Regions from separate parts of the Homo sapiens genome. Here all the other regions are linked to region 2. Evidence: fine-mapped expression QTL. A gene starts in region 2. Each other region holds a variant in brackets. All regions are shown on one strand. Distances are between the middles of the regions. Region 1 overlaps TMEM252-DT (TMEM252 divergent transcript). Region 2 holds the start of PGM5 (phosphoglucomutase 5). Region 3 overlaps PGM5 (phosphoglucomutase 5).

Evidence for each region. PIP is the estimated chance that this variant, and not a neighbour inherited with it, causes the effect. A credible set is the group of variants that fine-mapping cannot tell apart.
Region 1: its variant is the best candidate, but not a certain one, in a credible set for the expression of PGM5 in whole blood (INTERVAL, PIP 0.73).
Region 3: its variant is the best candidate, but not a certain one, in a credible set for the expression of PGM5 in whole blood (INTERVAL, PIP 0.54).

What each region holds. Positions count from the first base shown.
Region 1 is chr9:68,569,490-68,573,733 of GRCh38, forward strand. All of the region lies in intron 2 of TMEM252-DT (TMEM252 divergent transcript), which reads left to right. Among named protein-coding and RNA genes, the nearest start is that of LINC01506, 25 kb to the left of the region's middle. The variant A/T (reference allele first, on the strand shown) is at 2,163.
Region 2 is chr9:68,354,053-68,358,296 of GRCh38, forward strand. PGM5 (phosphoglucomutase 5) reads left to right here and starts at 2,559. Exons shown (of 11, transcript NM_021965.4): 1 at 2,559-3,336. The coding sequence starts at 3,076. PGM5-AS1 (PGM5 antisense RNA 1) reads right to left here and starts at 3,814. Exons shown (of 3, transcript NR_121192.1): 1 at 3,671-3,814; 2 at 2,238-2,294; 3 at 1,112-1,553.
Region 3 is chr9:68,517,054-68,521,297 of GRCh38, forward strand. All of the region lies in intron 10 of PGM5 (phosphoglucomutase 5), which reads left to right. Among named protein-coding and RNA genes, the nearest start is that of TMEM252, 22 kb to the right of the region's middle. The variant CTT/C (reference allele first, on the strand shown) is at 2,030.

The DNA.
Region 1 (4,244 bases), 220 kb after region 2:
AAAGAAAAGGCAATGCTTCAGTTTCTTTGATATCTTCTTCCCCACCCGACCCCCAATAACTAGGACATTGCTTTTTAGGCAATGGGAACCCAACAAATGTCATCTGAATGGCTTAAAATCAGTAGGTGTTGCAGAATGAAACCCCACAATTTCACCTTTGCCCTAGATACTACACTACACATCATTACAAATAGGCCAGGGCTCTCCAACAATTGCCATGGAAACTGTGTAGAATTCCTGTTCGCTGTCTCATGCCATCTGTTTGACTAAAGGTATAACAAGGAAAATAATAATCTGTAATTTCTCATAGCAAAGTTCCCCAAATTCACAAAGACAAGAGTATTTTTTTAACCATCTGCTTTCCCTTCAGGCTTTTCAGCAACTTCTGTGTAGCTAATACATAAAATTGTGTAACATTTATGAGGGCTGGTTCACCATATATGGTTTCTAGCTCTGAAAACTCAGTTATGTGGAAGCTAGAATTAAACAACATCAAAAACCAAAAACAAACAAAAAAAAACCATGATAACTCAAATGGAATCTGCATGATGAGTTACAGGACTGACAGTGGAAACAAAAGTTAAAAGTAGTCTCTTATTTCTGTCTGGGTACCAAAGGCAAAGCTTGCTGCTTTTCAGTTTGGCCCTGATTGTGTCTCTGTCAAATGCCTTGGGCAAATAGATTTAAAATTTGCCCACGAACAAAGTTAGCTTAATAATGGCTTCCATGCAGAGCTGTCAGAAGATAAAAGAGCTCTATAAAGGATTCTGAGGAATAAAACTTTATGGAACTTAGTGCCATATATGACAATTCCTTTGAGGAAATACATCAAAGGTAGAGATGAAGTGTTTGAGCTGGAAGGCACTTCATTCAGTTCAGTGGTTTTGAATCCGTGCTCCATGGAGCCCCTGGGTTTCCTCCAATTTCCCTCTGCAGCTGCCAGAGGTAAGAAGTTAGTAGAGTGAATGTCTGGAGTCACCAGCCCAACTTCCACTGAGCACCCTTGTGTGTATTTGATTTTCTTTTGAATATTCTCATAAAATTTATTTTAACAAAGGACTCTGTATTAGTCTCTTCTCATGTTGCTGATAAAGACATACCTGAGATTGGGTAATTTATAAAGAAAAAGAGGTTTAATGGACTCACAGTTCCATGTGGCTGGGGAGGCCTCACAGTCATGGTGGAAGGCGAAGAGGAGAAAAGTCACGTCTTACATGGTGGCAGGCAAGAGAGAGAATGAAAGCCAAGCGAAAGGGGAAACCTTTTATAAAATCATCAGATCTTGTGAGACTTATTCACTATCACAAGAACAGTATGAAGGAAACTGTCCCCATGATTCAGTTATCTCCCACCGGGTCCTTCCCACAACATGTGGGAATTAATGGGAGCTACAATTCAAGATGAGATTTGGGTGGGGACACAGAGCCAAACCGTATCAGACTTCGTGGCTTAACAATACTTTGATAAGATTCTGAGCTAATCCAACTCCCTCATTTTGTAGACGAAGAGATTCAGTGATTTGCTAAGGCCTCAGAGATACTCAGAGATGTGGCTGGGACTAGACAGGTGGTCTGGCTTCCCAATCTGCTATTCTCTCAGTGGTCTTTAGGCTGGAAATAAATTGCTACTGCACACCTGCAACTCAGGGACACAGTGCTGAACAATTTCTTCAAGAGACAGAATTCTGAACTTCTTCCCAGTCCTTGGAACATCATTCTCCTGTCTCTTAACTTCTTGCTTCTCTGATTATATTTTTATCTAGCCAATTGGATTTTCTGCCTAGCATGACTTTTCCAACAACAACCTGTTTGCTCCCCAGGTAGATAACTGATAAATGTTTATATCCTAAAAATCTCCAGTGCAATATGTCCTTGGAGGGAAAACACCCTCTGAGGCATATCAGTAAGGTACTGGATCTTGATGTCCCCAAGAAATGGTACTACGAAAGTTGCCCACTTCAAAGAAGATGTGATTTTTATTTATAGAGTGGAAAAATCATGAATGGGTCTCTTTGACAAAAGTTAAATAACGAGAATTATTGTATTATTAGTAATAACTTTTCATCAAGGTCCCCCGGAGAAAATAGTAATAATAGTAACAACAATAATAAAGGTGAAAAGTCCATGTTGCCTTTGTTAAATAGAAGCATCTCTGATCACAGC[A/T]TTGGAACTGGAACTGGAAAGGACCATGCAGACCAGTTCTCCTTCAAAAGAATTCATAATTTCCAGTAGGAACCATTGTCATCATCCTCAATACTGCTACCATTTCTTGAGCACTTGCTATGGACCAGCCAACTGTGTTAAGTAAGCTCTTTACAAGCACTGTCATTTAATCTCTGTAACCATTCCAAGCGTTATTATTCTCCCCTTTCTACAGATATGAAAACTGAGGTTCAGAAAGTTTAAATCAGGGTCATGGCCTTGTACAACTACAGGGAACATTATTTACTTTGTTTTCTATGTAAATGGAACCTTCTGGAGCACAATGCAGCAGCCTTGGTTTAAGTGACTCCCAATTTCCCAGAACTGGTAAATGACAAATTCAGGAATCACCTCCAGGCCTGTCTGAAGCCAAAAGCCCCGTTCTGATCACTACACAAGCCCCTGCTTCAGAAATCCATATGTGTGCTCGCACTCTGGAGTCTTATATTGATGATGATGAGTTAAGAAGAAATTCAGTTGGCTGTTGTATTAGTCCGTTCTCATGCTGCTATAAAGACATACCTAAGACTGGATACTTAAAAAAAAAAAAGCGGTTTAATCAGCTAATAGGTTCTGCGGGCTGTACAGGCTTCTGCTTCTGCGGAAGCCTCAGGAAACTTACAATCATGTCAGAAGGTAAAGAGGAAGCAAGCACATCTTCACATGGCCAGCAGAAGAGAGAGAGAGAGAGAAGTGGGGGGGCCAGTGCTACACACTTTCAAACAACCAGATATGCTGAGAACTCTATCACAAGAGCAGCAGTGGGGAAGTCCGCCCCCATGATTCAATCACTTCCCTCCAGGCCCCTCCTCCAACACTGGGAATTACAATTTGACATGAGACTTGGGTGGGGACGCAAAGCCAAACCATGTTAGCTGTTAAGTGGTGAGCATGACTTGAACTCAAGACAAATGCCCAAGAAGACTTTATTCGAACTGGTTTTCTATTTGTTTAGACACCAAGTGTTAGCTTCATAAGGTATAATTTTTTTAAACTGTATTTTGAAATAATTTCAAACTTAGAGAAAATTCACACCAATAGTAAGGAGCTCCCAAATACCTGTTACCCAAATCCACCAATTATTAACATTTTGCTGCCTTTGCTTTCTCTCTCTCTTTCTCTCTTTCTGTGGTGTGTGTGTGTCTGTGTGTGCATGCATATGTGTGTGTGTGTGTGTGTGTGTGTGTGTGTTTGCGTATTTGGGAATTACATCCTGAATATATACATATATACACATACGGAATTTTTAGTGATCCTTGAGGTGTGCTCCCTATGAACCAGCATTGCCTTGGTACTTGTTAGAAATGCAGATTACTCAGTCCCACCTCAGATGCACTGAATCAGAAACTTTAGGGGGTGGCATCCAGCAATCTGTGTTTTAACAGTCCTCCAGGCGATTCTGAAGCTCACCTATTTGAGAACCATTGTCCTATTAAAGAATACTTCGGAGAAGATTGTTCTGAGCAATAGGACAATACTATTATTTTAATATTTAATATTTTACATTAATGCCATTTTCTCATAAAAGGAGAGAAGTTGGGAAAAGCTGGGAAGTGTACCTTAGTTTTTCTGGGGGGTTGAGCATGACATAAAAGAATCATTCTTAGATTTTTCACCATGCCTGAACTAATTCATATAAAGAGACTCTATAGGCTAAGCTAAGTTTTAGGACTTAGTGTTCTAATTAAAGATTTAAATATGACTTTCCAAATTATTGCCTGGAATGGATTCATTTCTGTGAGCCTAATCCCTTTGCAAGTGTCTAAAGCTTGCTCTCACATTCACACAAAAAACTTACAGAAATACAAATACAGTCATTATAGAGAAGCTTACTGATTATGTAAACAGTCATGTCCACCAAAATTGTTTAATATAATTTTCAGAGGGTGAGAGCCTGAATATATCCTTTCTAGAAAGCTGCTTAACAAGGTTGTCAAACATTGAGGTAACTGACAAAATCATCAACCACGTAAAATTTCATTAGTCTTTACAATTACAAAATCAAATTTCTCCCTTTAAATAAATGCTTTGGGGTTTTATAAC
Region 2 (4,244 bases):
AAAGACAAATGGTTTTAGAAATCCTTGATCAGTGAGTGTGAAGCACGTGGTGGCCCGGTTACTGTTTGGTTGCCCATCTGTCCTCCCTCTGGGGATCAGCACCCCCTTACTTTGGAAGACTTGTTTTCCTTGTCACTGTAAGGTTCTTTCTGGCTATGTGGTAGGGCACATTGCCTCAAACTAGCCCTGTTCCAGTCTTTGAGAACCTTGAAATTGGAACCAAGGGAAGAGGATTGCCTCTTGAATGGTAATTCTCTAAAATCTAGTCTGAGGTGCTGGTGCCTAATCCCTGGGTCTGTGGAAGGAGCTGGGCTGTGAGAGGGGAGAATGATGTTGATGTCAAGAGAGAGGCAGGTGCTAGGAGCAGAGAGATGGAGGCCTGGAGGGTTTCTGGGCTTCTCTGAGGCTTAGGGTTTGGATCATTGTCTTCGTTACTGGAACAAAGGATTTACCATACCTGCTCTTCTGGGAATGAAACTGTCCTGCTTTGCAAAAAAAAGTGTCATTAGAAAGAGATCTTAAAAACCCCACACCATAGACAGGTGCACAGATCCCTAGAAGTGTTAAAGTTCTGTCTGTTGGATGCTAAGCCAAGACTCTTAAGTATGTTCTAAAGAGAAACTGGTGTGTGTAGGCTGTGCACTCCCAGGGAGATAAAAAGTTAGGAACTTTATGGGTTGGGCTTGGTGGCTCACACCTGTAATCCCAGCACTGTGGGAGGCTAAAGTGGGCAGATTGATTGAGCTGAGGAGTTCGAGACCAGCCTAGGCAACATGGTGAAACCCCATGTCTACAAAAACTACAAAAATTAGCTGGGCGTGGTGGCATGTACCTGTAGGCAGGAGGATCGCTTGAGCCCAAGAGGGAGAGGGTGCAGTGAGCCATGATTGTGCCACTGCACTCCACCTGGGTGACAGGAACTTTATGGGAAATGGGATCTTGGAGACTGAGTAGAGACTAGAGGAAAAAAAAAAACTACCTCCCCGACTGGCCACACTATTCTTTTAAAAAAATGTTAATTGACAAATTAAAATTGTATGTATTTACGGAGGTATGATGTGATGTTATGATATATGTATACATTGTGGAATAATTAAATCCAGAGAATTAATAGATTCATCACCTCAAAACCTATCTTTTTTGTGGTGAGAACATTTGAAATTTATTGTCTTAGCAATTTTGAAATACACAATACTTCATTGTTAACTACAGTCACCATGCTGTGCTGTAGATCTCAACAAAATATATTCCTCCTGTCTCAACTAAAACATTGTACTCTTTGACAACATTTCCCCATTCCTCTCACCCCCTCCAAAAACACCCATTCTTTATGTTGAAGAGAATGGCTAAAAAGTCCCAGCAGGTTTCAACAGACGGCTTCAGTGGTTGTCCCATCACACTTCAATGTTATTAATAAAAAGGGGAGGGGCAATACATAATTCGGACAGGCTGAAAGTACCATTGTAACCACTTTCTTGACTTCACAGAAAAAGTCCTCTTGTTTTCATCTGTAAAATGGGAACTGCATGAATACCATTCTTCTTTTCTTCAGCCTCCAAAGAAAAAACAGATGCAAAGCCTTTAATCAATTGCAAAACAGTATACAATGTGTGTTATTACTCACAGTTGTCTTACTGTGACCAAACACTTTATAAGCCTGCGGCAAGTCAGCCTTACTCTCAGTAAGTGGACAATATTTGGGGAAGGAGAAGCAGCAGGATATTTCAGGACAGTAGCCTTGGTGGGTCCAAAAATTCCTTGAGAGAAATGGGAGATAGAACTTTCTTCCTGCTTTGGGTTTTATCCTGTTAGTCTTTTCTCTCTTCACTCCTATTTTCTATGGAGAATTTCCTGGTTTTGGAGTTTGGGTGCGTTTTATGGAGAGGAGGCAGAAAATCTTTAGCTCCAGCAGAATGAAAGGATACATGCAAAGGAACCTAGCACAGTATCTGGTACCCAGGTCTCCTTTAACTTGGCTTTATTCATTCACTCCTGGTAGGGCATTAATAAGGGATTTAGCCCCCTCCTATTGAAAACGATTAATTCAAGGAAGAGTTCAGACAGTGTGGACAGATACAGTGTAGGAAAGCCTATTTCTAAGGCAGGAGCTGGGTAGGGAGGGTGAGAAGGGCGAGAAGAATAGGGAAATATGTGTCGTCTGTGTTGCTGCTGTTGCAACCACCACAACAAACAAACAAGTGAAAAAAAAAAAAAAAAAAAAAAAGAATTGTCCATACCGGAAAGTGTGCTGTTTTGGAGGAGGCTGGGGAAAGTGTGGATGGCTCGAGTGGGTCCTGTTGGATTGAAGTCTGACAGTGGTGATTCCCTTCAACAAATGGTCGGGGTGGGAGGGTACACACACACACACACACACACACACACACCCCACACGCAGCGCCCAGCCTCCGATTTCAGCGCTGGCAGGAGATAACCATTCTTAGCTCGCCTTTCCAGGGTTATTTTTGGCTGAGGCTGTTCGCTGATGGCAAAAGGTTTCAGCCCCCTCCCAAATCCCTCCCCGTCCTTGTTCTAAAGAGAAACTGGTGTGTGTAGGCTGCGCACTCCCAGGGAGACAGGGAGACGGGCCGGGCGCCGGAGAGGAACCCGGACTCTGCCCAAAGTCTCGCCGCCCGCCGGCTGTTTTCTGGCGGAGGGTGTGCCCCGGAGGGCGGCGATCGCGGGTGAAGGCTGGGGCCAGGCGCGGGTGGAGGCGTCACCGGGGTCGGGCTAGCAGGCCCTGGAATCAGGCTTTTGGGACACCCCGAAAGTGAGTCCAACTTGGGGAGAAACTGAGGGCAGCTCGGGCGGTCTGGCAGCGGAGAAGGTGGGTGGGAGAAAACTTTACAGGAAGGCAGAAGCAATCTCTGCCGAGAGAGTCAGCCGAGCGGCCGCGCGGAGAGGAGGGGCGGGCGGTCCCCAGGCGGGCGGGTGCAGGGCGCAGGGCGCCGACCTGCTGGAGAGGGGGCCCGGGCGCGAGGCGGAGTCCCGGCGCGCAGCCAGGCTGGTGGAGGCCCCCGGCAGGCTGCAGATTCCCTCCGGCTCCGGGAGCCGCAGCAGGACCGGCCAGGAGGCGCCATGGAGGGGAGCCCCATCCCGGTGCTGACAGTGCCCACCGCGCCCTACGAGGACCAGCGGCCGGCCGGCGGCGGGGGTCTGCGGCGACCCACCGGCCTCTTCGAGGGCCAGCGCAACTACCTGCCCAACTTTATCCAGAGCGTGCTGTCGTCCATCGACCTGCGCGACCGTCAGGGCTGCACCATGGTGGTGGGCAGCGACGGCAGGTACTTTAGCAGGACGGCCATCGAGATCGTGGTGCAGATGGCCGCGGCCAACGGGGTGAGTGTCCGGATGCCCCTCGCTTCCCGCCGCGCCGCCGCCATGCCCTCTCCTAGCCCTTGTCCCCCTGCTGCCTCCGGGCCCAGTTGGGAGGCCCCTGCCCGGCCCCGGCTTTGCTACCTCACTCCCGCGTCCTCACCCTCCAGCGCCCCACTCCCGCCGCGCTCGCAGCCTCCCCGGTGCACCCCGGACACTGGGTTCTATTAGTACCCACCGCCCCCAAAAGCCTTGAGGGGTTTCCGTCGTTCCTGGAGCCACTCCGGGCGCCCTGGACTCTTCTCCGACTCTGCGCACATCCCGCACCTGCTCATTTTTCTTTCGGACATTCTCTTACCCGGCCCTGTAGATTCCAAGGCAGCTCCCAGTTTTCCATATTGTTCCCAACGCATTCACTGCCCACAGTCCCCACACAAACTTCTTTCGCAGGCTCACAACATAGTCCCTCTGCCCCGTGCCCTTTTTGCAATAATCTGCCAGTCCCCTAAGTCTTAGCTCTGCCTATTTAACAGTAGTGGTGTCTCAGAACACACACACACACACACACACACACACACACACACACACACACACACACACGATCCCTGACATATTTGGCAAGAGTAGGCCCTGAAGGTTTTTATTATTTTGGTTCTTTAACCCAGTGGAATTACTGAATGATTTATTTAATTAGGGTAGGGATGGAGTGGATCCATTTGTTTGATGCTAAACAGCCTGAGCTCGCAGTTCCCAGGGGGCATATCTCTAAATGGTCTGAAATGAGATTTGCAGTGGTTTTCTTAATGCAATTCCCAACTTCTCTCCAAATGCCTTTTGGCATTTGACAACATTTCATGCCTCTTCCCCTTTCGGTTTTCATCCTTGTTTTCTCTCCCTTCTCCCACGACCTCGGTAGTCTTCTGCAATCCAGA
Region 3 (4,244 bases), 160 kb after region 2:
TTTTTTTTTAAATAGAGACGGGGTTTCTCCATATTGGTCAGACTGGCCTCAAATTCCCGACTTCAGGTGATCTGCCCGCCTCGGCCTACCAAAATGCTGGGATTACAGGCCTGAGCCACTGCGCCTAGCCTAGTTCTGTGTTGTAGTCATGAGCAGTTGAGTCCATGCTGAGAGTTTGCATCTCAGGGCATAGGCATAATAGGGGACGGGGAGGACTGCAGTACCTTTACTCCCCAAATGGTTGCTGGGCTCTTACGCAAATCTGCCAGCCCTCCGCAGTAGTCTTCAAGGCCCTCATAATACAAAAATCTCTATTTCAGAAAAAGAGAAAATTTAAATTAGAATGCCCCAGATTCCTGGATATGTAACTATCCAGGTAAAATTTATACTTATTAATATTAAAATTATTTCACTGCCTCTAGTGTACTATTGCTTGTTCAGTGGTAGCAAATTCAGTCACCCACCAACACAGGCAGTAAGTCCTAGATTGGGGCCAATTTAAGACAATAGAGCATGGTGGGCACTCTGGTGATGCTCAGCTGTCTTTAATTATTGCATTGTTAATATGTGAGCTCAAGGTTGCCAGGTTTTCTGATTTTAAAAGGAGCAAGATATCTGGACTTTCAAATGAAATTTGATTTTTAAATATTGGCAGGAAAATGATTACAAAACAACACAAATCCCATATGAAGGACTTCTAACTTTTAGTAGTGGTGGACTAGGTGATTCAAACTAACCTTCCCTCTGTAAAGAGCTGAAAGAAATATATTAAAGCATCTTATTAAAAGCATGGTTGACCAATGACCTAATAAAACAGTAACAAGAACAGGAAAAGGGTTGGCACTCAGGAAAATGAGCCAAAGCTCTTTCTGTCCTAGGGAATTTGTCCATCTAGGAGAGGTACTAAAGAAGAGGTGCTTTTGATGACTGGCACAGGGTAAAGGTGACCGGCATCAGGTCCAGGTGGAGGAGGATCTGGTCTATTACAGTCTGCCTCTGCTAACCAGGAGACTAACCAAAGAGGCAGCAAAGAGGCAGACCTGTGTGGCATTTTCGTGTGGCCAAAAGAAATATGGTTAGTTAAGTACACATCAAAGGCAGAGATCCTGGCTTAACAATCCCTGCTCTAGGGTGTAAACTTGAAGAAGACCATTCCAAAGGTGGTATACAGACTGTACTCCAGAGGATTATAAATCCATGGCTCTGATCTTCTGGCTCCCTGAGGAGTCTCATGAAAGGAAATGAAGGAAACTAACAATATTCTAGGTCTCCAGTTATTTCTATAAGCAATTTTTCAAACAAAATGGGCACCAAACAATAAAAGATTATAAAGCACTTGGATACACAAAGCAACACATACCAGAATCAACAGAAACAACATACCACAGAAAAAGATCTATAGATACTGGAATTTATTCAATACACACTGTAAAATAGTTATTTTCACTATGTTCATGGAAATAAAGCACTGAATGTAAAAACATCAGCAAATAACTGAAAACTATAAAAATACACCAAGATGTTGAAATTAAAGAGCTGAGAAAGATAACCAAAATTAAGAACATAAATGGATTTAACAGCAGCTGAAGAATATCAGTGAACTTAAAATATTTCAGAAGAAACTATGCATCTGATTTTTCAGTTTAGTCCTTATGATTTGCAGAACAAAGAATATAAGATTGCTGCCTTTGGAAGATGAAAGATCATATTCGGAAAAATACAGAATAGAGGGTAAGAGACACAAAGGATACAGTGAGAAGTGCTAACATAATTTAGTTGGAGTCTCAAAAGAGGAGACAGAAACTTGGGTATAGGCAACACTGGAAAAAATGATAGGTGAAGATTTCCCAGAACCAATGAAGGAGGTCAGCCCACTGATTCTAGAAAGCCAAGCAGGATATATAAAAATAAATTCACATCTAGACACATCAGGCTAAAATTGCAGAAAATCAAAGGCAAAGAATAGTTTGATTGACAACTAATTTTTCTTTATCAACACTAAAAATAAGGAGACTGATGGCTTAGAACT[CTT/C]AATCTAGTGAAACTTTCCTTCTAAAATGAAAGCGAAATAAACACATCTTCAGATAAACAAAAGCTGAGAGAGTATCTACACAAAAAGAAATTCTCAAGGATATTCTTCAGGAAGAAGGAAAATTATCCCAGATAGATATTTGGAATAAAATGCAGCAAGGAATAAAAGAAATGTTAAAAATAGGAGTTGGTATAAATGAACATTGGCTGTATAAAATATTAATAATTGCTGAAATATGTATATTAATTAATATGGAGAATTAAATTATACAACCACAGTAACTAAACACCATGAGCATAATTGTAGTTAAGGTAAGATCCTTGAATATATTGGAAGAAAATAAAGGTATAGATAAATACTAGACTTTGATAGGTCAAGGATTCATGTTGTAGTTTCTAGGTAACGATTAAAAAAAATAGAAGGAAATTACATAACTTCTTAAGAGAGGAAAACATAGGAACTTTAAAAAATTGAGAAAGAAAAACAGCTAGGTCAATTTCATCCATGTATACATATGTAACTAACCTGCACAATGTGCACATGTACCCTAAAACTTAAAGTATAATAAAAAAAAATTAAAAAAAAAAAGAAAAACAGCTAGGTCAAGTAAAAAGCACATAAGGTGGTGGATTTAAACTTGAATTTACTGGTTATTACTTTAAATATAAGTGAACTAACTGCTGTAGGAAAAAGACAATGTAATGGTGATTCATACCTGTAATCCCAGCACTTTCAGAGGCCAAGGTGGTAGGATTGCTTAAGCCTGGGAGTTTGAGACCAGCCTGGGCAACATAAGGAGACCTTGTCTTTACAATAAATAAATAAATAAATAAATAAATAAATAAATAAATAAAATTAGCCAGGTGTGATGGTGTGCACTTGTAGTCCTAGCTAATTGGGAGGCTGAGGTGAGAGGATTGCTCAAGCCTGGGAAATTGATGATGCAGTCAGCCATGATCATACCACTGCGCTCCAGCTTGAGTGACAGAGTGAGACCCTGTCTCAAAAAAAAAAAAAAGACAACTATAAGCTCGTTATAAAAAATACATCTTTTATACATAAAAATACAGAAAATTTGAAAGTTAAAAGACGGAAAAAGATATACAAATGATAACCTAAAACTAGCTCTATTATTTCAGATAAAATAGACTTTAAGGTCAAAAGCATTGCTAAAGATAAAGAGAGACTCTTCAAACTGATAAAAGAGTTAAATCCCCCAGGAAGACACAGTAGTTTTAAATTTATAAAGAAAAAAAAAAGAGGGAGAGAGAGATGAAAATGTAAGAAGAAAATAAATCCACAGTTGCCCTTGAGTATTTTAGCACCCCTCTCAGTAATTATTAGAATAAGTATACAATTAGTAAAGAACATAGAATATTTAAACAACTTAGTTAACACACCTGACTTAATAGGCACATATAGATATTACACCACGCAACATCAACTCAACGTGTAAATTCTTTTCATGCCACAGGGGACACGTATAAAAATTACCTATATGCTGAGGAATGAAAGAATACAGAGTATTATAAGGGCAACTGAATTCGAAAATGAAAACAAAATTGACACAAAAAAAGCTTTTGATAAAATGTATCATCTCTTCATGATAAAAATTCTGTGAATAGGAATCAAAGGGAAGTCCTTTAATATCATAAAACGGTATTGCTAAAGAAAAAACCTGGACGTAGGCTATATGTGCTGACAGTATGCTAACAAGGGAGAACGACTTGATGGGTTCATTTAGAACTCAAATAGGCTTTGTCTTCAGAAGGACAAGCATCAGTTTTACATATAATTAGAGTATGTTAAATTGTTTGCATTTCCCTGTGATTGTTATATTTAATAATCCTTAAAAAGGTAATTTTCAAATAGTGTGCCTAGAAACAGGGAAACTTTTGGCATTAAGACAAATATATTTATAAACTTTCAGAAAATGAAAACTTTTCCCTCAGTATAAGGGCAGTCTAGATAGTGAGATACAGCCTAGCTTTGAGGTTAAAAATCACAGTACTGAGTAGGTTCAGAGCTCAGCTTTGCCACTTGATTGCCATGTGACTGCACAAGTTATGTAATGAGTCCAAGCCTCAGTTTCCTCATCTGTAAAATGAGAATAATACCACCTACCTCATAGACTGTTTAGAGATTAATTCAATACATGAATTTGGAATAGCACTTGGCACATTTTGGGTACTCAGTGCCAGCTATTACAAAA